Linked DNA regions of Homo sapiens. The protein of the gene in region 2 interacts with the protein of the main gene of each other region in a pairwise test. Each region holds a gene or a part of one and is shown on either strand. Other genes may lie near its edges. The genes, in order: NMI and BRAT1.

Evidence for each region.
Region 1: the proteins of BRAT1 (region 2) and NMI interact in binary tests that used the Homo sapiens proteins (3 or more experiments, as listed by UniProt).

What each region holds. Positions count from the first base shown.
Region 1 is NC_000002.12:151,265,016-151,281,959, forward strand, and holds the end of NMI (N-myc-interactor), read right to left. Parts: coding exon 16,933-16,944; intron 13,976-16,932; coding exon 13,813-13,975; intron 10,850-13,812; coding exon 10,743-10,849; intron 10,656-10,742; coding exon 10,469-10,655; intron 6,718-10,468; coding exon 6,611-6,717; intron 5,861-6,610; coding exon 5,678-5,860; 3' UTR 5,455-5,677; downstream 1-5,454. UniProt on the Homo sapiens protein: Acts as a signaling pathway regulator involved in innate immune system response.
Region 2 is NC_000007.14:2,545,335-2,555,048, forward strand, and holds part of BRAT1 (integrator complex assembly factor BRAT1), read right to left. Parts: exon of another isoform or gene 9,707-9,714; intron 9,114-9,706; 5' UTR 9,098-9,113; coding exon 8,971-9,097; intron 5,632-8,970; exon of another isoform or gene 5,536-5,631; intron 3,791-5,535; exon of another isoform or gene 3,732-3,790; intron 2,145-3,731; coding exon 1,990-2,144; intron 1-1,989. UniProt on the Homo sapiens protein: Component of a multiprotein complex required for the assembly of the RNA endonuclease module of the integrator complex.

The DNA.
Region 1 (16,944 bases), on a different chromosome or scaffold from region 2:
TATTTTAGCAGCATATTACTAACTAAAACTGCATTCAAGAAAATCTTTTAACATCTTATAGCCCCAATTATAAGGCCTCTTGCCTCACTGTACTTTTCTGTCTTGAAGCTTTAATAAAATCAAATTGGAGGGCCGGGCGCAGTGGTTCATGCCTGTAATCCCAGCACTTTGGGAGGCCGAGGCAGGCGGATCACGAGGTCAGGAGATGGAGACCATCCTGGGTAACAAGGTGAAACCCCGTCTCTACTAAAAATACAAAAAAATCAGCCGGGCGTGGTGGCTTGCCCCTGTAGTCCCAGCTACTCAGGAGGCTGAGGCAGAAGAATCGCTTGAACCCGGGAGATGGAGGTTGCAGTGAGTTGAGACTGTGCCACTGCACTCCAGCCTGCGTGACAGAGCGAGACTCCATCTCTAAAGAAAGAAAGAAATAAAATCAACATTTTCCTGAACGTTTTTCATTTGTGACACCAAAAAACTAAAGCAAAACCCATTACAGGATGTTTCACCCGTATCTTGGTAATTACTTATTTTCATAAAACCCTGGGATGTGTTATGAAAATTTCCAAAAATAGAATAAAGAAAACATGTTTAGATAAGTAGTATTCAGTGCTGAAATGGAGCAATGAGATAGTGCTTGGTTACACTGTTAATGAAAGTACAAACCAATGCCTACCTTTCTAGTAAGCAATTCTGGCCTCACTTAACAAGATCCTTAAAAGAGTTTTTCGTCCTTCTGCCTTTCAACCTAGCAATTATCACCTTGAAGTAAGGTCAGAACTGCAGAAAATGTCTTATGTACCAAGACATATAAGGACTTACGTACATCAGAATATTTATAAGTGTGAAGAAATTAGAAGCAACCTTATTCCCAACAATAAGGAAGTGACAAATAGCATAGGGTATATGGGTATATTTACAGCATTAAATGTGATGTGGTTAGAAGGAAAAAAAGAATAGAAAAGAGAACACAAAAATATTTACCATTATCTCTGGATGTGTACTTTTGGTGATTTTTATTATCTCCATAATACTATGTGTATTTTTCAAGATTGAGCATCTTTTCTTTTTTAATACCAAGCAGGTATCATTAATGCTATTTCCCATACAGTTTTGGCTTTCTGCCTTCCAACCATATGGTAAGAATGAACATCCAGGCTCCTTTATGGTTGGGTAGGTCCATATGCTTAGTTCTGAGTTGTGAGTGGAAGTGACAAGTATCATTTCTGGGCCAAAAATTTAATTACCAGTTAAAGACCCTTCAAAGCTCTTTTCTTCCTCTGGCATAACATCTAGCAATAGTAAAGATGGTGGCTGCCATGAGTTTGGGTCCCTAAGTGTTTACCATGAGCAGAGCTCTTTTTGTTGAACCATCAATGGCCATGTAGCTTGAGGAAGGAATAAATGTGTGTTGCTTTAAGTCTCTGAAATTTAAAAAGATTTAAAATTTAAAAATTTTAAATTTAAAAATTTTTCACATCAGCATCACATAGCCTATTCTGATTGATACAGAAATTGGTATTCTGAAATGGAGTACTGCTATGGCCAAAAAAAAAACCACACAATCCAAACACTACTTGAAATACATGACTTTGGCTTAGAGGCCAAGTGGCAGATAAGAAGAAAATAGTTATCAGAGATTAGAAGGATGGTGACCCACATTATGCAGTATAAAAGTACTTTGTAAAACTGTCATGTGATAGCTTGGAAAGCAAATAATGTACCTAATTAGCTTGTGGTTTTGGGGTTGTTATTTTTTAAGTATGGGAAGCAGAAAGTTATTAGCATTTTTCTGTTATCATTGAGTGCATTTAACAAATAATATAAGAAAGAAATGACTTTAGAAAAGAACTGGCCAGTTTGAAAGCAGGAATGAAAGGGAATAGAGAAAGTCCAGAAATATGAACTTCCAACTTATGGGGCTGGAAGAAACATTTCTCATTCCCAAATAATAAACAATAAAACCAAGAAGCCTGTTGAGTAACAAAGATTGATTAGAACTCCGGTTTATCGCGGGGATCAAATCAAGGTGTAAATCTCTAAATAGATTAGGATCCCTCAGAGCGAAAACACCAATTAAGGTTGTGGAATACAATAAACCCTTTCAACTGGACAAAATAGCTCAAGGAAATGAAAGCAAAAGTGTGGCCTGATAGACCCAAAGTATCTATAATTAAATGAGGAGAGTGAAAGAAGCATGAGGCTAAGAAAGCAGAGAACAGTAGCAACTCTAAAAAGTAAGTCTAGAAAAGAACTGTGGATGTGTAAGCTTACCAGAATAAAATAGACAAGATGCCTATTGAGTTTTTCCATTTTACCAGCTAAATAACCACCACTCCAGACTAAAGAGACCATGACTGTTCAAAACTTTATAACTTTGGTCACAAACATTGACCATAGGAAGTGCACTAGGGAAGCTTTTCAGATTCCAAGAGATTTCAAATGCCCATTCTAGATATGGCCAAGAAGAATAATGGAAAAAGAAGAGTGTTCAACTGGGAGGCGGAGGTTGCAGTGAGCTGAGATCGCACCACTGCACTCCAGTGTGGGCGATAGAGTGAGAATCCGTGTCAAAAAAAAAAAGAAGAAGAAGAATGTTCAAGAGCCATAAGGACAATGAGCAAGAGAATTCTTAGAGAATGGAATCAGGGCCTAATCCAAATTCCACACCCTGGGAGTATGGAGCACACATCTACTGAATGGGATTTCAGAATTGCTTTGGCCCAGTGACGGCTATGTGTCTCCCATTCTTTCCCTTTCCAAGTGTAAGAGTTTATTGCACTCATCTTATTCCAGTTCCGCTACTCTATATTGGATGTGTGAGGGTCTCTGCATAAAGAGGAGTAACATTCAGACCTGATGTAGAGCACTTTGAATTCATGCACTTTGAGTTTAATATCATGATTGGATAGAATTTCTTGTTTTTCTCCCTTAAGGATGAGATGACTACGAGTGTATTTTGTGTGAGAAGACAAATGAACTAAATATTGGTGGTAAGACAGGTAGGCTATGCTGGTTATTATTCTGGCTCAGCGATATCTGTTTCTCCTAACTTTTGATAAGACAGAATTTCCTAGTCCCCATATATATATTTGGATTTAAAATAGAGATATATAAGCATTTATATATATACATGTATTTAGATTTTAAATAGAGATGGGGTCTCACTGTGTTGGCCAGGCTGGTCTCAAACTCCTGGCCTCAAGTGATCCTCCTATTTTGGCCTCCCAAAGTGCTGGGATTACATGGATGAGCCACCATGCCCAGCCCAAGTCCCTTCTATTTGAATAGGGCCATGTGACTATTTCTGACCAATGAGATGTGAGAAGAAATGACAAGAATCACTTCTGGGTCACAGCATTTAATTGCTGATACAAGACTTTCCAGATTTCACATTTCCTCCCCCTCCTCCACCCTCCATGATTCTTGTCTCAAGAATGGAGTCTCTAAGTGATGAGGATAAACAGAGTCCCCCTGCCAACCTGTGCTGGATAATCAGCATGGGTAAGAATTGTTTAGGCCCATGAGGTTTGGCAGGTTGTTTGTTACTGTGGCATTACCTAGCCTGTGCTGCCTGATAAATCAACAAACAGCAAGAGGAACTTGTAATTCCACATATGTATCTATATGACTTATCATATTGGCAATGTCTGGAGTTAGCTCATCTTGGACATACATATGAAGGCCCCTTTCTTAATATTCAATATATTAAACAGTCAATATGTACTTTTGATAAGTTTTCAAAGACAGCTGTCCTTCTGTAAGATCCCTAAAACTCTAGGAATAAGCAGGAGAGCCAATACTTGTTTTCTGACATCCAGCCAGACTGCTCTTGGGTGAGGGTGAAAGGAATCCAAAAGAAAAGTATAATTTTCTAAGCTAGAAATATTTATAAAAAAACACATAGGAAAATTTAGAATTGAATTATCAATTTTACTGCCTGAAGAGGACCCCCCAAAATACAAAAGTGACTATTTCAACTTTGTCCTAAATAAATATTAACATAAAATTCTTCCTGATAGGCAATCTGCCACAGACTATCAACAATACCTTCTGTGCCAGTGAGACTGGCAAAATGGAAATTAAAAAGCTACTTTAAAGTTTTCTTCTTAATATTTTTGAGAGCTTTAAATAGTCATTCTATTTTAAAAAGAATAATAGACACGAGAGATTTGTTTAAATGGTAAATATGAAGATTTATCATAAACTGTAGTTTTTAGGCACCATCTCTCATTCTTTAAAGAAAGGTGAAAATGAGAACTCCTGAGAGTAATGTAACTTTAAAAACTAAAAATAAAATATCAGAAGCAAAACTCGAGCTTTTCCTTTTGTTTGTTTTAGATGCCAGGCAGCATTCAATAGGTTTAGAACCTTTTCTAAAAGCCTTTCATTCTGCCAGCATTTTAATATGAATTTAATTCTGCTGCCAGTTCTTCATGAAACCTACCATGTCAGAATAGAAGTTGTCCAAAGGTTTTTTTTCTATTTTTCTTTTTTTTTTTTTTTTTTTGAGACAGAGTCTCACTGCAACACCCAGGCTGGAGTGCAATGGCACGATCTCAGCTCACTGCAACCTCCGCCTCCCAGGTTCAAGCAATTCTGCCTCAGCCTCCCAAGTAGCTGGGATTACAGGCGCCCACCACCATGCCCGGCTAATTTTTGTATTTTTAGTAGAGATAGGGTTTCACCATGTTGGCCAGGCTGGTTTCGAACTCCTGACCTCAAGTGATCCGCCCACCTCAGCCTCCCAAAGTGCTGGTGGCGTGAGCCACCGCAACCGGCCTAAAGGTTCTTTACCAAAAAGACTTTTACCTTCTCTGAATAGGAATCTTTAATTTTATCATTAAAGTTTCTGCAAGTTAAAAACAGTGAGATGCTAGTAAACTGGGTCTCTTTCCAACTAAACTTAAACCCTTGGAGGGCAGGTACTGTGTTTTTACCTCCAGTCATTCCCCAGCATCGAGCATGATAAGTGATGAGTCACTAACTTTGTATTTACCTCTCTCTCCATGCCAAGGTTTTCAAACTCTTATACCAATTGTTTCCATTGTAAGTGCAAAAGAAAGAAAAAGCTAGTCCTTTACGAGCTCTATTTGGAGAGGGGATGGCTTGGAAGGAATCAAGGGACACTTGGCACTTGGGTGAACAGAAATTCAAGAAAAAGATCACACTCAGCTCTGAGAACCTTTAGAGTTGTGGAGTGAAATGCTATGCACAGTGGTAAATGGTTGCTCTTGAAGTCCTTCGAATCTTCAGTTGAGTTTACAGGAATCACCAACTGCTGAATGTAACTGCCTTTGTTTTGGAAAATGTTAAGAGTCAAGTCTGCATATTGGTGGGCATGGGGCCACAACTGAATTGGCCCACAAGACCATAACAGGATGAGCCAGCACTGGCAGGGGACATCTGAATCACTTAAGGTTGATTTCAGCAGACATGGCACCAATACACATAATCTATAAACAAAACTTTTTATTACAGTGCACTTATTGTAGTTGAAAACATGCAGCACCATTTGAAACAAAGAAGATTCAGAAACATGGAAATAAGTTTTGTATCTAAACATAAATGGATGGTAAAAATTAAAGTTTTCATTTTTTAAGGAAAAGCATATTCATTTTTGTCAAACATTTACAGTAATCCGGGTTAAAAAGCTATAGTTTTCATGATTCTGTTAAGTCTATTCTTCAAAGTATGCTATGTGAGGTTGACCTAGAGAACACTTGACCACATCTACTTCTCCACCTCCATTCTTTGCCCGTTGAAAGTGAATGTTAATTAAATCCTCCACAATTTCTTCATCCATTTGAATGCCTTCCATTCCTGTCAGAAGCACTGTCCTCTTAGATGTTCCTGAAAATATCTAAGAAGGAAAAAATGATAAATAGAAAGATTTCTAAGAGCTTTGAATTACAAAACTTTACATTCATAATCTCTGCTTAATATTTTTTATTTTATCTTAGAAGAGACAAGAAATCTTAGGAAGATTTTCCAAGCAAGAGAATATCCAAGTCAGATCTGAGTTTTAGAAAGAGAACTCTGGTGGCATTATGGAACACAGAGGAAAGGAGGGATGCTCTGGGAACAGAAAGACCAGGTAAAGAGGTAGTCAGAAGTGGAGCTGGCAAGATTTAGTGACCAAATGAATGTTGGAGGTGAAGCAAACTGAAGAGTTAAGTATGAGTTCTAGCTTTTAAGTTGGTGGAGTAGGTAGATGGTGGTACCATTGGATACCTGAGAAGGAAGAGGAAAAGGGAGCAGGTCTGGGGTAAAGATAATGAGTTCAGAGAAAGTAGGCAGGAATTCTTTCTCATGCTCACTGACAGTAGACATATGAGAGAAATGCAACTATGTCTCCATGTACAAAAATAAAAATTGTGCCATTATCTGAGTAATTTCAGTTTTAAAAATTGTATAATAAAGTACAGTTTTGCATTAAAATGCTCCTTCAAAAGACAAACTCATTTTGCACCAAGCAAAAATGAAGTAAAGAAACCATTTTGCTATCCCTCATTGATAAGATGCATAAGTAACAGACTCACAACAACTTTATTTTTTGTGGGGTGGGTTTGGGCAGTGAGTTCTGAAAATGAGAGAACAGAGATGACTTTACCTGATACTTTTTCAAGTGTATTTCTGTGTATGGAGAAACAGTAACTCTATGGCAGGTTTGATTTATATAAAGAGGGTATTCTTTCTTTTTCAAAATCTTGTCAGCCACTAAAAGCAAAACAAAAACAATACTTGTCTTTTTTATATCATAAGCATTTTTAACCAAAGTTAAAACTTCCTTCAAAGAGAACACTATTACAGTAAATATTGAGTTAAAAGATTAATTTTTAAGAAATTCTAAAGCCCACTTTGAAGACTTCACAGTACATAATTTTGAAAACTACAAGACCAAACAATAATGAGGTTTAAAGCCTTCATTCCATCTTGAATTATTCACTGCAGTCAATCAATGCACAAAGGGTTGCAATGTCCTCAGACAGATCTACTTTGAGCTATAAAAAATACCATAGTCTTTTGCAGAAAGTAACCCACTCATCTAACAAGACTGGACTGTTTCCCAGTTTCTCAAAAGCTGTAAGTGAAAACTATGATTAGAATACTATATACATTTTTTTCAATATATTCAATAAACTGAAGTAATGATGTTAACCAAAGCAGGGAGGGGATTGAATGTCATCTAGAAAAACTGAAAGGAAATAAAAATTCATCAGTTTTCTACAACACAAAGAATAGTCTATTTTTTAGCAGTATTTTTTTCTCCTAGAGTGGTGAAAGGATGTGTGTCAAGACTGTAACATTTAACAAAAACAGTTCTTGGGAATATACAACCATGTTTTTTATGACTCTTCTCACTCATCTACCTTGGATCAGCAATATGGTACAATGATTAAGAGTGTAGGCCCTCATTGGCGAGAATATGGAGAAATTGAAACCCTGAGGCAATGCTGATAGAAATGTAAAATGGTACAGCCACTGTAGAAAACAGTATGACAGTTCCCCAAAATATTAAAATAGAACATGATATGATCCAGCAATTCAACTTCTGGGTATATACCCGAAACAACTGAAAGCAGGGACTCGGACAGATACTTGCTCGTTAATGCTCAGAGCAGTATTTTTCACAATAGGCAAAAGGTGGAAGCAACCCAAGCATCCACCAACAGATGAACAGATCAACAAAATGGATATATAAAATACACACACACACAGAGAATATTATTCAGCCTTTAAAAAGGATGAAATTCTGATACATACCACAACATGGATGGACCCTGATAACATTATGCTAACCAAAATAAGACAGACAGGAAAAGGACAAATATTGTATAATTCCACTTGAATGAGGTACCTAGAATAGGCAAATTCATAGAGACAGAAAGTAGAATGATGGTTACCAGGGGCTGGAAGAAGAGGTAATGGAGAATTATTGTTAAATGGGTACAGAGTTTCAGTTTGGGGTGATTAAAAAGTTCTAGAGATGGATAGTGGTGATGGTTGTACAACATTGTGAATGTACTTAGTACCCTTGAATTGTACATTTAAAAATTGTTAAAATGGTAAATTTTATGTTATATATATTTTATCACAGTTAAAAAAAAAAAAAAGAGTACAGGTCCTGAGTCAAATAGACCAGCTTCAGTCCTAGCTCTGCTACTTATGAGCTATGTGGCCTTGGATATGTTGCTTGACTTCTTAAAGCCTCAGTTTCTTTTTCTGTAAAATAAGCATAATTACAGTACCTACCCTGTAGATTATTGTGATGAGTCAGTAAGACACAGTTTATGAAGTATCTGGCATATTTATCTCCAGAATACCTTCACATCCTTCAGTAGTTACCTGCTGGATAACCTATAACCTGCAGAAGTATTTTTCCCATCTGGCTAGATGTAACCTCTAGGAGAACATCCCCAGATGGCCCAAGGACACAGGTTCCAAAGCTAGTATTATCTCTCACAGTAGAGTTATAAATTGCATTCTAGTTTATTTTATTTTATTTATTTTATTTCGGTTTTTTTGAGACCGAGTCTCACTCTGTCACCCAGGCTGGAGTGCAGTGATGCAATCTCAGCTCCCTGCAACCTCCACCCCCCAGGTTCAAGCAATTCTCCTGCCTCAGCCTCCCAAGTAGTTGGGACTATAGGCGTGAGCCAGCACATCCGCTAATTTTTGTATTTTTGGTGGAGAAGGGGTCTCGCGATGTTGGCCAGGCTGGTCTTGAACTCCTGGCCTCAAGTGATCCACCCGCCTCCGCCTCCCAAAGTGCTGGGATTATAGGCATGAGCCACTGCGCCTGGCCAGATTTTTTAAAATCCAAGATATAGACAAACTAACACCAAACAGGCTAAATGAATATATGAATTTGGCAAATTAAAATCTGGATGCTTGACTATGGAAGTTTCCACCAAGTTATTGTTCATTTCCAAGACAACATATTACTGTAGCCCTCAAGACCCCTTCCTTTTATAGCTCTCCCTGACACATCCCACCAGGATGTCCTAAACATCATCCAAAAGCTCAGGTCAAAAATGCATATTGGGCCAGGAGCGGCGGCTCATGCTTGTAATCCCAGCACTTTGGGAAGCCAAGGCGGGCGTATCACTTGAAGTCAGGAGTTCGAGACCAACCTGACCAACATGGTGAAACCCCGTCTCTACCAAAAATACAAAAATTAGTCAGGCATGGTGGCATGCACTTGTAATTCCAGCTACTCGGGAGGCTGAGGTGGGAGAATTGCTTGAACCCGGGAAGCGGAGGTTGCAGTGAGCTGAGATAGTGCCACTGCACTCCAGCCCGGGCGACAGAGCAAGACTCTGTCTCACAAAAAAAAAAAAAAAAAAAAAAAAAAAAAGGATATTGACATGTTTTAATGTGCCCAGAGAAAAGCCTGGAAAGACACCCAAATAACCATAACTAACTAAATAGTAGGAGAAAGGGAAGTTTGAGGAAATGTCTCTTTTTGTTTTTTTTTGAGACGGAGTCTCACTCTGTCGCCCAAGCTGGAGTGCAGTGGCGTAGTCTCGGCTCACTGCAACCTCCACCTCCTGGGTTCAAGCTATTCTCCTGCCTGAGCCCCCCGAGTAGCTGGGATTACAGGCATGCGCCACCACACCTGGCTAATTTTTTTGTATTTTTAGTAGAGACGGGGTTTCACCATGTTAGTCAGGCTGGTCTCGAACTCCTCACCTCATGATCTGCCTGCCTCGGCCTCCCAAAGTGCTGGGATTACAGGCATGAGCCACCGGGCCCGGCCGAAATGTCTCATTTTTACTAAATGTTTGCTCTTCTGTATTATTTCACCTTCCTTAAAAAAGCATGTATTACTTTGTCATGAAAAAATCTAATCCATCAATTTTTTTTTTTAATTTTGTTTTTTGAGACAGGGTCTCACTCTGTCTCCCAGGCTGTAGTGCAGTGGTGCAATCACAGGTCACTGCAGCCTCAACCTCCTGGCCTCAAGTAATCCTCCCACCTCAGCCTCCTGAGTAGCTGGGACCACAGGCACGCACCACTATGCCTGGTGATCTCAGCTCACTGCAACCTCCACCTCCTGGGTTCAAGTGATTCTCCCTGCCTCAGCCTCCCAAGTAGCTGGGATTACAGGCACTTGCCACCATGCCTGGCTAATTTTTGTATTTTTAGTAGAGATGGGGTTTCGCCATGTTGGACAGGCTGGTCTTGAACTCCTGACCTCAAGTGATCCGCCTGCCTCCGCCTCCCAAAGTGCTGGGATTACAGGGGTGAGCCACTGCACCCTGCCTATTTGTAGCAATATTATCTTTCCTAGTACTGTCCCTGGAAATAATTTCCTACACTCTACTATTTTATAAGGTTTTTTAAAATCCCCAATTATCATGCTAATACATTCCAAATAAAAGAAGTAGAATAGGAATACTTTCAGAAACAACAGAACATGACTGAAATGGCAGAGTGTCTGTTAACCTTCTACACCCTTGAGTACCTCCAATCTCCACAAACGTGATGACTGCACTCCCGGACTGTCTGTCATAGTCCACGCGGTCCACCTCTCCGCCTCCATTTCGGGACTTTGAAAAGCTCAGCTCTAGTTTGTCTCTCATTTGATCTTCACGCAATGTGTCAGGAATTTCAGTAACATTGATTTTCATTTTAGAAACTTCTACATAAACCTGGAAAATGATTTGATGTTCAGAAATATGGATGAGAGAAGTGCTTGTGATGAACAGAAATCCAAAAAATTTTAATCATCCTGTTACCTGGAATCTGACTCCTGAATTTAATGGAACTGGCTTGGCCGTAACCTCCAGATTTACATCTTTTATCTGTACATGATGTTTACTCATGCTTACCACATTTTGAGCAACTGAAAAATAATTCAGGAAGGAAGTATTAATTTCCAATATTTTAAGAATTGTTATGCTTTTGGTTTAAGAACAAATTATCCTGAATATTTTTAATTTTCTTTAATATTAAAGGGTCTAATTTTAAAAATTTGGCGGGCGGTGATTCCAAGTGATAATGGTCTTGCTACCAAAGTAGAATATATAATTTGGGGGGTCAGGGGGAAGGAGGACCAGATCTCATTCTGTCACTGAAGCTGGAATGCAGTGATGTGATCATAGCTCACTGTAACCTCAAACTCCTGGGCTCAAGAGATCCTCCCACCTCAGCTTCCAGAATAGCTATGATTACAGGTGCATGCCACCACGCCTAGCTAATTTTTTTAACTTTTTGTAGAGACGAGCTCTCACTTTGTTACCCAGGCTGCTCTGGAACTCCTGGACTCAAGCAATCCTCCTGCATCGGACTCCCAGACAAAGTTCTGGTATTATCAGGATGAGCCACTGCTCTTGGTCCCAAAGTAGAATATATTAATGTCAAAGTATATCAGCAAAATCACAATGTAGAAGTTCTCAAGTTCTAGATTCTTCTCATAAGATGAATCTTTTCTCTTATCTCTTAAGAGATAAGCCTAACAATCTTCCAGAATTCATATATTACTTCAGCTCAGCCACATACCCTTCCTTCCACTATTAACAATTACCAGAGGATTCCCCTAGTACATTAATGCACAGCCAGAAAGTGTCCCATGTTCAGTAAGCTGGGAAAACTTTCATGGCTAAGTGTCATTTGTACAATTAGTCTTGATTTTACTTAACCTTATCATTTGTTACTCCTTAATATGTTACAAGCACTAGAGCAATATATATTCATTTGCTCTGTCTTCTCAAGGATTACATGTTAAAGACTACATAGGCTGGAACATCAAAGAGTGAGTCTTTTTTTTGGTCATACTTAATGACGAATTCCACTTTTGCAAAAATGCTCTTGAAATCATTCTTTAAAAAGTTGATAGTCCTGCTATATTGATCACAAAGCTGTCAAGTCTAATTTACCTGTGCAAATGGGAGAGGTTTAGTAAAATGCTAAAAATCACTAGCACTCCAAAAGGCAACTCTATGTCAATTAAAAATGTGAGTGGGCATTTATTTTTAATTGTGTGGCATGAGTTTATAATACTGCAGTTGTTGATATTTGGGGCTGCTATTCCAATGTATCATGAAAATAAGTGACATTCACTCTCTGTCTTATAAAACTTCACATGTGTTTATGACAACCAGACCAGATGGCACCACACCACAGCTGGAGGAAGAGAAAAAAGGGCCAGAAGGCAGGGCCTTGGCCATGTGGGAATTCAACTCACTGTACCAAAATATGACTCTATAACTTGGATGATGGTTTTTTGTTTTTTTGTGTTTTTGTGTTTTTTTGCTAATGACAACAGACAATAACAGAAAATATCAATGAGTAATACTCAGATGATCCTCTTTCCCTCCCACTCTTCCACAAACCCCCAACATCTGGTGATCTGATACAGCTGAGAGGGACCGCTTGTGTCTCAATTGTTGTGACTCTGACAATCAAGAGCCAACTCCTACTTAATTGTGTTTCAAACCTACTGCTGTCCCAGGAGATTGGGAGCTCAGAGCCACGTCAAGCGTAGAAGCAATGATGTAGGTGCTTTTAGAGAATTCCATTTCCAACATTCCCAGGAAATTGCTGTGCAGAAATCCTGCCTCCCAAATCCTCATTTATATCTATCTTTTAGTTATATCCCGATTACCAGTCGCCAGTATGAGTCCTGGACTCCTCTTCTACCTGTAGCAGTAGCTCCAGGGTGAAGGAAAACACACTGGCGATGCATGTCTTCTACGCACAGATACTGTCCTGCTGGAATGCCTTTCAACATTTATTTTCAGGCTACAGTGGTGCACCAGTTTTGAGGAAACATGGGTTATAGACTGTCAGAATATGAGCACTGGAAGGGCTGGGAACACCATCTGGTCCCTCACCACATAACTTAAATAAAAGAACAAAGGCCTGGGCTGGTGGCCTACCGAGAGAAATATTGGCCCAGTGGAAGTACATGGACTCTCAGGGTTTGGCTCTAAGCTCTGCAACTAACCGTATAGACTTTAAGCAAGTTAATTATCTTCTTTAAGCTTCTGTATCCTTATCTGAAAAATTTCTAACATGTAGCAAAAACTAACATCCATTAAGTTTGTATTAAGTGTCCAACATTGTGCTAAGTATTTTATCAACATTTCTCATTTAATACTCAAAGCAGCCTCATGAAGTAGGTACTACCATGAAGCACCTGTATAAAACCCTGAGGTTTATAAAGAACCTATCCCAAATCATGCTTCTAGGAAGGGACAAGGCTGGCACTCAAAGCCAGATCCTCCCCACTCAGGAACCCCCAGCTCTGAACAGGGGCCCTCACCATGGCAGACTTAGCAAACATTAGGTTTCATTCCAAATCTCTAGCTCCCAGGCTCTTCTCATTCGTTGGCTATGTTCCCTTAGGTAAATCACTTAAACATCCTCAGAATCTGTTTTCTTGGCTCTGGCATGTCTATATTTAAAGTACACAATAATAACTATCCTATCCTCCTATATTTATGGAATTGTGTGAGTATAAAATGTGATAATGTCTCTGAGAACTGTACAGCTCTACTACCTTGAAATATTACTATCATTATTTGGAGGTAGCATGTGGAGTAGAAAGAGGCTGGTATTGGACATCATCATAGCACCTGGATTAAGTCCCACAGTCATGGCTTTCTGAATACAAGATCATATTCAAGGCACTTGTCTCAGAGTCAGTTTTCTCATCTGTAAAATGGGAATAATCATACCTGCCTCAGAACGTCACTATGAGGATAAGAAATAATATAAGTGAAGTAATATTAGCGAAGTAATAGCTAAATGTCTATGAAAGTGCTTTCCAAATAACATGGTCATATTTTTTAACATTAGTCATACCTTCTTCTTTTTCAAAGGTGATAAGTGCTTGTCCTTTTTGTATCTCATAAGGAACTTTCGAGCTCACTTGAAACGAACAGGAGATATTTGACAACTGGCTGTCATTCTCAGGAGTTTCAACTGATAAGAATTTCATCTTTGTTTCAGGAATATCCTCTTTAATCTAATCCAAATGAAAATGTTTGATTAAAATCAAGACGAGAAATAACTTAAGTCCTTCCAATGATAATGTAATTTGGTCATCCAATAATTCATTCCCCACTAATTTTAGAACCTTGTAGAATATTGAGTATGGTCTTATTTAACATTTTTAGTAATTGCTTTTTCCCATGTAAGTACTCAGTAATCAAATGCTGATCTTTTAATATCATTTCACAGATGAAATTAAAAATATATAATCCTCTCACTTTTTTCTAATCAATGTTTAAACTGTCAATATTGTATGGTGTTCAGTTCTAAAGCCTACATCATTCATGTGAATAAGGACTTTTTAAACAAGTGCCAATAATAGACTATCTCAAAAGGAAATCATTAGATAGTATGTTTAATTTTGCTGCAAAGTATGAAATATAGTGTTGGGTATAATATGGTATTTCAAATCCAGATAATTTCATCCAAAAAGAAAGACTCTAGAATTAGATAATTTTATTTATTTATTTATTTATTTTGAGACAGAGTCTCACTCTGTTGCCAGGCTGGAGTACAGTGGTGTGATCTCGGCTCACTGCAACCTCCACCTCCCGGGTTCAAACAATTCTCCTGCCTCAGTCTCCCGCGTAGCTGGAACTACAGGCATGCGCTACCACACCGAGCTAATTTCTGTATTTTGTATTTTTAGCAAAGACAGGGTTTCACCACGTTGGCCAGGATGGTCTCTTGACCTCATGATCTGCCTGCCTTGGTCTCCCAAAGCGCTGGGATTACAGGCGTGAGCCACCACACCTGGCCCAGAATTAGATGATGTTAAATTTATCAAATTTAAAAATTCCACCTTCCCCAACACCTGCCCATCAACTTTTTAACCATTACCACAACTTAGGTTTATAAAAAATGAGAAGGGACAGTATCAACAGAAATTGTAAGCTGAGGCTACACAGGTGGCTCACACTCGTAATCCCAGCACTTTGGGAGGCCAAAGCAGGCAGATCACCTGAGGTCAGGAGTTTGAGACCAGCCTGGCCAACATGGTAAAACCCATCTCTACTAAAAATACAAAAATTAGCTGGGCGTGGTGGCAAACGCCTGTAATCCTGGCTATTCAGGAGGCTGAGGCAGGAGAATCGCTTGAACCAGGGAGGCGGATGTTGTAGTGAACCGAGATCGCACCATTGCATTCCAGCCTGGGCAACAAGAACAAAACTCTGTTTCAAAAAAAAAAATTGTAACCTGAAAGATAAAGGTAGGTGGTTATACTTAGCTGCTTAGAATTATTGGGATTAACAGATTCATATAACTACACATAAATGCACAAATGAGATAGATGCTTGCATTTCTATTGCCCATGGTTATTTTACATGCTGAAAATAACACAGAGATTAGAAATATTCAGTGAGTCATTCAATTTAATCTTACATTTATTCTTTGCCTTTATGCATAACTCCAGTGGAACTTCTGATTACGGTAAGGCTGACATCAAAACAGTCTACAATGTCTGAGTAAAGGCAGAGTGTTACCCAATAATGCAGAAATACCCAGTATATGCTGAGGAGCAAGGGCTTTCTGAAATTAGAGTGAGAAAGCTTGATTCTATTTCTGACCACACTGCGACAGACAGCAAATTTACTTAAGCTCTCTGATCACAGGTTTGGTCCTCTGCAAAGTGGGTCGACTAGGGCTGGCCGGTTTCTAAAGGCTCTTTGAGTTATAAGACTGCATGATTCTAGCTCCAGTCTGAGAAGTAACCAGAATCTTAACAGAGTCTTCTGCACAAAGTCACCCATCTCATAAACACAGAAAACCTCACTTCCTGATATTCAATATCCTATCTCCCACTTCAGAAACAAGAAGTGTCAATGCTTTAATTTTTTTTTTTTTAGGCGGCGCCTCGCTCTGTCGCCCAGGCTGGAGCACAGTGGTGTGATCTCAGCTCATCGCGACCTCCGCCTCCCAGGTTCAAGCAATTCTCTGCCTCAGCCTCCCAAGTAGCTGGGATACAGGCACCCGCCACCATGCCTGGCTAATTTTTCTTTTTTAGTAGAGACAGGGTTTCACCATCTTAGCCAGGCTGGTCGTGAATTCCTGACCCCATGATCCACCCGCCTCAGCCTCCCAAAGTGCTGGGATTACAGGCATGAGCCACCGCGCCCAGCCTCAATGCTTTAATTTTTTAACATCTGAGTTGTTAAGAAAAAAAATGGGTGAAAATTATGTACAATTAAAATACAGGAAAATTTAGGAGAGAATTTAAATGGTGAGGATTAATATATGTCCAATTTTTTGAACCGTGAAACTCATCTAAATTACCAAAGCACCTTGGATGAGAAGAATTATAAAAGAACTCAGTGAGAAAAGCCAGAATTTGATCCAACAGTAATTTGCTAATGACCATCTTTTTTTGGTAAATTTTATTAATTTTTTGTTTTTGTAAATTTATTAAAGTGTACGTAAATAATAGAAAAATGCATGTATCATTAAGTACAGCAAGATGAAATTTTACAAAGCTAACACACGTGATTGGCACGCAGATGATAGGCAGGACATGACAACACCCCAGAAACCCCCTTGGGTTCCCTTCTGGGTCTTACCTGCTTCCAAAATAACCACTGTTTTAACTTCAAACATCCTGCTTTTGCTTAATTTAAAGGGAAGCATATGGTATGCCCTCTTCTGTCTTTTTTGTGTTAACATTGTGTTTATGAAACTCATTTGTGTTGCTGCATGTCATTATGATCTGTTCATTCTCATTGCTGTGTAGTTTTCTATCATATGACTATACCCCAATTCACTAATTCGTTCTACTATGAAGGAATCATTGGGTTGTTTTCCATTTTGAACTATTACAAATGGTGGTGCCATGGATGATGATAAGGTTTTAAAAATGAATTTTGTGTAATTAAAATGCTTTTTCCAAAAACCATGCATCCATCAAAAATGTAGTATATAAAATAATTAAGAGAGTACCTGGAATTCTTT
Region 2 (9,714 bases):
GCCTGGGTGACACAGCGAGACTCCATCTCAAAAAAAAAAAAAAAAAAAAAAAAAAAGAGGTGAGGGGACCTGGTAGGTTTCCAGGGATGTGGAGCAAAGCAGAGATGGGTTTTCAGTTTTCCAGGGCTGGTGGAGATACTTCTGGAGGACACTTTCTTCTTCTTTTTTTTTTTTTTGAGACAGTCCCACTCTGTTGCCTAGGCTGGAGTGCAGTGGCACATCTCGGCTCACTGCAACCTCTGCCTCCTGGGCTCAAGCTATTTTCCTGTCTCAGCCTCCTGAGTAGCTGGCATTACAGGTGCCCACCACCACACCCAGCTAATTTTTTCATTTTTAGTAGAGACAGGGCTTTACCATGTTGGTTAGCCTGGTCTCGAACTCCTGACCTCAGGTGATCCGCCTGCCTCAGCCTCCCAAAGTGCTGGGATTATAGGCATGAGCCACCGTGCCCAGCCTGGAGGGTACTTTCATACCAGCTGCTGACAGACAAGGGCCCCCGGATTCACTGTACGGCAGCACCCTAGGACACCTTGGAAAGTCTGTCCTGCAGCAAGATGGTGCCTGGGTGGGCTGCTAGGGAGCCTGCAGCTGCTTAACTGGGGGGCATCGTGAACGGCAAGCTAACGGTACTGGATGTGCCTTCGCACAACCTGGCGAGGGCCTGTGAGGCACCAAGAGAAGCCGTCGTGGTAGACGGGCAAGGGCCCTGAAGCTCACACCACGCATCCCGACAGACTCAGCGGTGCCTGTCTGAGGCACTTGAAGCTGGAAGACACAGCTCTGGGAGGCTCTCGAGCTCTCATGCCTTGCTATGTAGAAATTCTTGGCTGGGAGCAGTGGCTCACGACTGTATCCCAACACTTTGGGAGGCCGAGGCAGGATGATCGCTTGAGACCAGGAGTTTGAGACCAGCCTGGGCAACATAGTGAGACCCCATCTCTACCAAAGATAACAAAGTTAGCCAGGTGTGGTTCATGCACCTGTGGACCCAGCTACTCGGGAAGCTGAATGGGGAGGGTCACTTGAGCCCAGGAGGTCAAGGCTGCAGTGAGCTGCCACTGCACTCCAGCCTGGACGACAGAGCAGGACTCTGTCTCTAAAAAACAAAACAAAAAAAGGCCGGGTATGGTGGCTCACGCCTGTAATCCTAGCATTTTGGGAGGCCGAGGCAGACGGATCACTTGAGGTCAAGGAGTTCGTGATCAGCCTGGCCAAAATGGTGAAATCCTGTCTCTACTAAAACTACAAAAATTAGCTGGGCGTGGTGGCAGGTGCCTGTAGTCCCAGATACTCGGGAGGCTGAGGCAGGAGAATCGCTTGAACCTGGGAGGTGGAGACTGCAGTTAGCTGAGTTCGAACCATTGCACTCCAGCCTGGGTGACAGAGCAAGACTCTGTCTCGAAAAATAATAATAAAATAAAATAAAAATAAATAAAATTAATTTTTTAAAAAAAAGACATTCTCATTAGTCATTCACATTCTCATTAGTTATTCATTCATTTGTAGGCTGGGTCGCTGGAGGTGCAGGATGTGCGGTCTCATTTGGTCCTCACGACAACCCCACGGCGCAGCTACGACTCCTGTCTCCGTCCCAGGAAGAGACGGGGGCCACGGGGCAGCTACGACTCCTGTCTCCGTCCCAGGAAGAGACGGAGGCCACGGCGCAGCTGCGACTCCTGTCTCCGTCCCAGGAAGAGATGGAGGCTTGCGGCCGTGGGCAAGCTCAGACAGCTGGTCAGAGCTGGGAGCCCGTGCCAGTCATCTTATTCCAAAAAACCTCAACTCCTTAGCCCCAGCATCACTCCGGGCGAATTTTTCAAAGGGGGCTACAGTCGGGGGTAAAAAACATGCAGTTCTAGTGAGGACACAGGGTCGGGGCAGGCCGCTGGGACTTGGGATGGTGATGGCTACAAATGCCCCACCTGGCTGCGGGAGGAAAAGCCTGCCCACCTCTCCACGGGACACTCAGGTGGGAGGCCCCAGGCTCACCTGAAGATACTGGAAGCAGTTTTCCTGGGCTGCGAAGGTTCCTGCCAGGCGCAGTGAGAAGGAGAGGACCCCAGAACTCAGGTCCTGGACTTTCAGCACATGGGACAGCAGCTCCACCAGGCAGGGGTGCTCCTGCAGCAGCACGACACTGGACTCTGTGGGGATGGCCCAGCCCAGGGGTCACCAGGGGTACGGCACCAGGTGTCCCCCTGGATGACCGCTCTTCTCCTAGCAATTCCCAGACCCTTTTCTTGCAGGGTGTTAGATTTAGGGATCCAACTGGGAAAAAAATATCTGCAACAAATACGGCAAATGACTCATAATTTTAATTCAGTAAGGGCTAGAAAGCCAACACCTTAACAACAGGTGAAAGGCGGAACACTGTCACCTTTCACAACAGGTGAATGGCCAAAAATGCTGAAAAAATGTTCTGTCTCACTGATAGTGAAAAAGAAATGCAAATTAAAGTGAAAGACCAGGCTGGGCGTGGTGGCTCACGCCTGTAATCCCAACACGTTAGGAGGCCAAGGCGGGTGGTCACTTGAGCTCAGGAGTTCGAGACCAGCCTGGCCAACATGGCGAAGTCCCATCTCTACTAAAAATACAAAAAATTAGCCAGGTGTGGTGGCTCATGCCTGTAGTCCCAGCTAATTGGAAGGCTGAGGCAGGAGAATCGCTTGAACCTGGGAGGCAGAGGCTGCAGTGAGCCAAGACCACGTCATTGCACACGGCACACTCCAGCCCTGGGCGACAGAGCGAGACTCCATTCCAAAAAAAAAAAAAAAAAAAAGTGGAAGAGCATTTTCACCTTCCAAATGGGTACTTTTCCTTAGACAGTGCTCCATGCAAGCAGGTACAATGGAACAAACATTCCTCTCCAGAACTGGCATCCTGTATTTCTATAACCAGCTATGCTATCGCTCAAAAGCACCAGTGGGGGAAAAAGACATTTTGAGGCAAAGGTTGGGAGAGTTTCCCAGTGAGAAGCCCCTGTGGAAAGAATGTGGTTCAGTAAGGAGAGTGAGGAGCATGCAGAGGAGGAGAACCAGGCCAGGACCCAAAAAGCACTATGTCCACCTGAATCAGCACTGCAGGCTGGGTGAGGTGCTCATACCTGTAGTCCCAGCACTTTGGGAGGCCAAGGCAGGAGAACAACATAGCAAGACCCTGTCTCTACAAAAAATAAAAAAAAATTAGCCCGGCATGGTGGCACACATCTGCAGTCCCAGCTACTCAGGAGGCTGAGACGGGAGGATTGCTTGAGCCCAGGAGTTCGAGGCTGCAGCAAGCTATCACTGCACCACTGTACTCCAGCCTGGGCGACAGAGGGAGACCCTGTCTCTCTAAAAAAAAAAAAGGCGGGGCGTGGTGGCTCACGCCTGTAATCCCAGCACTTTTGAAGGCCAAGGCAGGCAGATCACGAGGTCAGGAGATTGAGACCATCCTGGCAAACATGGTGAATGAAACCCTGTCTCTACTAAAATATAAAAAATTAGCCAGGCATGGTGGCGGGCGCCTGTGGTCCCAGCTATTTGGGAGGCTGAGGCAGGAGAACTGCTTGAACTCGGGAGGTGGAGGTTGCGGTGAGCCGAGATCGCACCACTGCACTCCAGCCTGGTGACAGGGCAAGACTCTGTCTCAAAAACAAACAAACAAACAAACAAAAAACAATGCCACTGAGTTCAAAATCTAAAAAATCATTGTTGAAGGGTTTTGAAACAAAACAGAATTAAAATACTAACGACAATAATAGAAGGTTGTGATGGCCTGAAGTTCAAGTGCTCTGAGGTCCTTCGGTTGCCTGGATAGAGAATGGAAAGTCTAATTAACTTCAGACTTTTTAAAAAATCCGGTTCTCATGTTAAAAATATAAGGGTAGCCACTGAAGAACACAAATAAGCCTGTGGTCCCAGCATCTTGAGAGGCCGAGGTGGGCAGATTGCCTGAGCCCAGGAGTTTTAAGACCAGCTTGGGCAACACAGGAAGATCCCCTCTCTATAAAAATTCGCTGGGCATGGTGGCGCGCATCTATAGTCCCAGCTACACTGGAAGCTGAGATGGGAAGATCACCTGAGCCCAGGAGGTCAAGGCTGCAGTGAGCCGTGATTACACCACTGTCCTGGACAACAGCACAAGAACTTGTCTAAAAAGAAGAACATAAATAGAATGTATAACTTCAAAACCAGAAGAGGAAAGATTTAAAAGAAAAAAAAAAGCTTTATCAATCTGATGGAGGGCAGAAAAGGAGGATAAAGGCACAAAGGTAAGGCACAGGAAATTAAAAAATACAAAAGAATTCAAATCTAACAGTCGCCTCAACAAATTAAAGAGATCAAACTTATCTGTTAAAAGAAAGAGTTGCTGAGATTAAATTAAACACTAAAAACAAGCAATGTGGTGTTTCTAAAAGCAATAAAATGCAACGACAGGAAAGGCTGGGAGCAGGAGAGAAAAGACACAGTAGGCAAATTCTAACTTTAAAGAAGCTGATGTAGCAACAGAAATAGCAAACAAAATGGGCTGTAAAGCAAAAAGCAGTATTCATGCAGAAGTAAGTTAACTGATCACGGAGATAAATTCCAGAAAGACACAACATTCCTACATCTATGTATACCTAACCTCACTTCAAAACGTGTAAAGCAGCCTGGGCAACGTGGTGAAACCCCGTCTCCGCAAAAAAATACAAAAAATTAGCTGGGTGTGGTGGTGTGTCCCTGTAGTCCCAGCCATCCAGGAGGCTGGGGTGGGAGGATCACTTGAGCCCAGGAAGTTGAGGCTACAGTGAGCCGTGATCACACCACTGCACTCTAGCCTGAGTGACAGAGTGAGACCCTGTCTCCAAAAAAAAAAGAAAAAAAAAATGCCAGGCACAGTGCCTCACACCTGTAATTGCAGCGATTTGAGAGGCCAAGGCGGGCAGACTGCTTGAGCCCAGGAGTTTGAGACCAGCCTGGGCTACATAGTGAAACCCCGTCACTACAAAAAATACAAAAACTTAGCCGGGCGTGGTGGCGGGCTCCTGTGGTCCCAGCTATTAGGGAGGCTGAGGTGAGAGAATCATCTGAGCCCAAGAAGTCGAGGCTGCAGTGAACCGAGATCATGCCACTGCACTCCAGCCTGGGCAATAGAGCAAGACTCCATCTCAAAAAAAAAAAAACAAAAAAAAAAAAAGAAAGAAAAGAAAAAGAAAAAAATAATATGTAAAGCGAAAAAAAAAAAAAGGATGCATCTCAAAGAAAAATCATGAATCCATGATCTTGGTGTAAGCTTTTTACACACCTCTCAGAAACAAGCAAACAAATTAGCAAGAACATAGCAGGTCTGAACTAATGAACGAGTGTGGAAACTACACTCTTTCCATCAAGTACAATGCAGGAGAAATGACAGAGGCTGGGAGGGAGGAGGAAACAGGGACTCACTGTGAACCCAGACTCGGTTTCTTTAGGGGGAACAAAATTAGATTGTGCTGATGATTTCAGAGCCCTGTAAATTTACTAAGAACTGTTGAATTGGTACCATTTATTTATTTATTTTGTCCATTTCTCATGTCAGACGGGTCACGTACCGACATCATACCAGGGTTCCATGGTGCCACATCTCACACATGCGCCTGAACACTCAATTATCATGCTTAGGTTGGGTGCAGTGGCTCTCCACTGTAACCCCAGCACTTTGGGAGGCCAAGGTGGAGGGATCACCTGAGGTCAGGAGTTCGAGACCAGCCTGGCCAACATGATGAAATCCCACCTCTACTAAAAATACAAAAATTGGCCGGGCATGGTGGCATGCACCTTTAATCGCAGGTACTCAGGAGGCTGAGGCAGGAGAATCGTTTGAAACCCAGGAGGCGGAGGTTGCAGTGAGCCAAGATTGTGCCATTGCACCCCAGCCTGGGCAACAGAGCAAGACTTGGTCTCAAAAAAAAAAAAATCTATATCTATATATATATCTATATATAGATATATATATATCTCATGCTTACAAACTGTAAAAGGATCTGGTACACCTTAAATGGGAGAATGGCATGGTATGCAAATTATATCTCAATAAAGCTACTGAAAAATACTTCTTAAAATTTAAATACAGGCCAGGCATGGTGGCTCGCTCCTGTAATCCCAGCACTTTGGGAAGCCCAGGCGGGAAGACTGCTTGAGCCCAGGAGTTCCAAGCTGGCCTGGACAAGATGGTGAGACCTCATCTCTATGGGAAAAAAAAAAATAGCTGGGCCTGGTACACACCTTGATCCCAGGAACTCAAGAGAATGAGGCAGGCGGACTGCCCAGGAGGTCAAGGCTGCAGTGAGCCGTGTTCACGCCATTGCACTCCATCCTGGGTGACGCGCAAAAACCCTGGCTCAAAAAAAAAAAAAAAGAAAAAGAAAAACTGACTACTACAAACTAGGCCACAGTTGAAGACCTTCAAATACCAAAACATCAAAATCATATAGTGAAATCTCTAGAACATTGAGAAAACTCGCCTGGGTCCTATGTCTCAATAAAAGTCTCAACAGCTATAAAGATTCAAAACATATGTTATGTTTTCTAACCTCCACAAAGTAAATTAAAAATCAATAATAAAAAGACTGGAAAAATCCATATTTTGAAACTAAAGGATACTCTTTTAAGTAACTTGTGGGTGAAAAAAAAATTATAATGAAAAGCATAAAATACTCAGAACTAAATTAAAACCAAAGTACTGCAATGTAAAACGTGTAAGATGTAGCTAAAGTCATACTTTTAGAGAAATGCATAGTCTTAAATATATATATATATATATATATATATTTTTTTTTTTTTTTTTTTTTTTTTTTTGAGACAAGAGTCTCACTCCATTGCCCTGGCTGGAGTGCAATGGCGTTATCTCGGCTCACTGCAACCTCTGCCTCCCAGGTTCAAGTGATTCTCCTGCTTCAGCCTCCCGAGTAGCTGGGATTACAGGCATGGACCACCATGTCAGGCTAATTCTTGTATTTTTAGTAGAGACGGGGTTTCACCATGTTAGCCAGGCTGGTCTCCAACTCCTGACCTCAAGTGATCTGCCTGCCTCAGCCTCCCAAAGTGCTGGGATTATAGGCATGAACCACCGTGCCTGGCCTTAAATATATATATTAGAAAACAAGGAAGACCTAGATATTTAGCTCAAAGAGGGTAAAAGGCACTTTGGGAAGCAGAGGCAGGTGACTGCCTGAGCCCAGGAGATCGAAAACAGCTTGGGCAATACGGTGAGACCCCATCCTTAAAAAAAAAAATACAATATAATTTAAAAATAAAAAGAATAAAAGAACACGGTAAACCAAAAAAAGGAAGTAAAGAATAGCAGAAATTAACAACATGCAGTCTATCCCAATGCAATTATCAACCATGAGAATAAACATTTACATGCGAGAATATTTATGTAAAAGGAAAGCCATTATGACACTATTTTTTTTTTTTTGAGACGGAATCTCGCTCTGTCGCCCAGGCTGCAGTGCAGTGGCGTGATCTCGGCTCACTGCAAGCTCTGCCTCCTGTGTTCACGCCATTCTCCTGCCCAGCCTCCCAAGTAACTGGGACTACAGGCGCCCACCACCACGTCTGGCTATTTTTTTTTTTTTTGTATTTTTAGTAGAGACGGGGTTTCACCATGTTAGCCAGGAGGGTCTTGATCTCCAGACCTCGTGATCTGCCTGCCTCGGTCTCCCAAAGTGCTGGGATTACAGGCTTGAGCCACCGCGCTCGACTGACACTATTTTTTTGAGACAGAGTCCATTCTGTCGCTGGAGTGCAGTGGCACGATCTGGGCTCACTGCAACCTCCGCTTCCTGGGTTCAAGCGATCCTCCCCCTCAGTCTCCCAAGTAGCTGGGATTACGGCGCATGCCACCATGCCCGGCTAATTTTTTTATTTTTAGTAGAGACGAGGTCTCACCATGTTGGCCAGGCTGGTTTCGAACTCCTGACTTCAAGTGACCTACCCGCCTTGGCCTCCCAAAGTGATGGGATTACAAGCATGAGTCACCGCGCCTGACCTATGACACTACTTAAAATGATGAAAAATGAGAAATATAAACATCTGACAGTGGAGTGATTCAATTAATTATGGTCTATTCCTACAGCAAATAACATGTAGTCAATAACATTAACATATTATGTGGAGAAAACACTCACTATGATAGCAAGAGAGAAAGCAAGACACCAAAATTGTGTTTACAGTATGACCTCATTTTTTTTTCCCCAGAAAAATACAGCTTTATGTGTTATGAAAAGGCTGGGAGTAAATTAAAACGTTGATGGTTTAATTTTCCTCTTTACTCTTTTGTTCATGTTTTAAAGAACATGTATTACTTTGTTTTTTTTTTTTGAGACAGGGTCTCACTCTATCACCCAGGTCAGGGTGCAGTGGCACAATCATAGCTCACTGCAACCTCTACCTCCCGGACTCAAAGGATCCTCCCATCTCAGCCTCCAGAGTAGCTGGGACTACAGGTGCGCCACCAGGCACAGCTAATTTTTGTTTTTTTTTTTTTTAGAGATGACGTCTCGCTATGTTGGACCAGGCTGGTCTTGAACTCCTGGACTTAAGCAATCCGCTCGCCTCAGCCTCCCAAAGTGCTGGGATTACAGGTATGAGCCACTGCATCCGGCCCCTACTTTCATAATCAGAAAGAAAACAAATCTGATGTCTTAAACACACTAAATACAACGAGAACAACAATAAAACAAGTTTGTTCACGCCTTCTGTAGAACTGAACCTTGGGGTGCCCTGATCGTGGCTCAACTGGCTGAATTTCAGGCTCTAACTCTCCAGATCATTCTCTCGGGCTTCATCTTAACTTGCCCTCAGTCTGCCACAGATAATCCTTAGGAAGTGAAGGAAAGACATCTGATTGGCAGTTTCTGCCCTTCCTCCAGGACAGGGGAGTCCCCATCTGGCCCCTGCTCCCTGTCCCAGCCTCTGCGTCTGGTCTCTGGATAGGCAGTAAACAGCAGCACCACCTCCTTACCTCCTTCAGTGACCGTTTTAAACCAGTCCAGGAGCTTCTCCAAACAGGTGTCATCTGCCACCGGCTGCCTGGGATCTACCAGAACAGCACAGAGAGCCGGGAGCAGCTGGGCGCATTCTGGGTCCATGGTGAGGCCGCAGGCCCTGCAAAGGCAATGTGAGAGCCAAACCTCAATGCCCACTCCAGACCCAGCTCGCTCTAGTCACAGCAGCCCACCATGCCTGCTCAGGCCTGGGAAGGGGCCCCAGAACTTTCATCTCAGACCAGGAGAACCATGATCCCCAGACCAGAGGTCTGTACTGCAGGGATGGATGCAAAGCTTTGGTCTAGGTGGGGCCCTGAGCGCTGGTGGCGGGGCTGAAAGGGGCAGATGAGGGTCTAGCTGAAACCACAAGGCCTCCGGAACTCAAAGTCTGTCACCCTTGGTCTTTGGTGCAGTCGGGGCAACAGCGTGGTGCTGGCCCAGGCTGCAGGTGGGCCAGAGTCAGGGGCATCTTTGAGTTCCGGGGTCAGCCATGTGTGCAAGGGGATGTCTACCCATGCCCCAGGGCCAGCCTGGGCTGGAAAGTTTCTGTCCCTCCCAGCGTCAAGTGGTGGCTGCATTTGACGTCCTGAAGCCAGCAGGGGGGTGCGGAGGGGAAGGGGCGCCTGTCCGTGTGTCTGTCCCTCTCAGGGTCAGTGGTGGCTGCATTTGCTGTTCTGCAGCCAGTAGGAGGGTGAGGAGGGGAAGGGGCACCTGTCCGT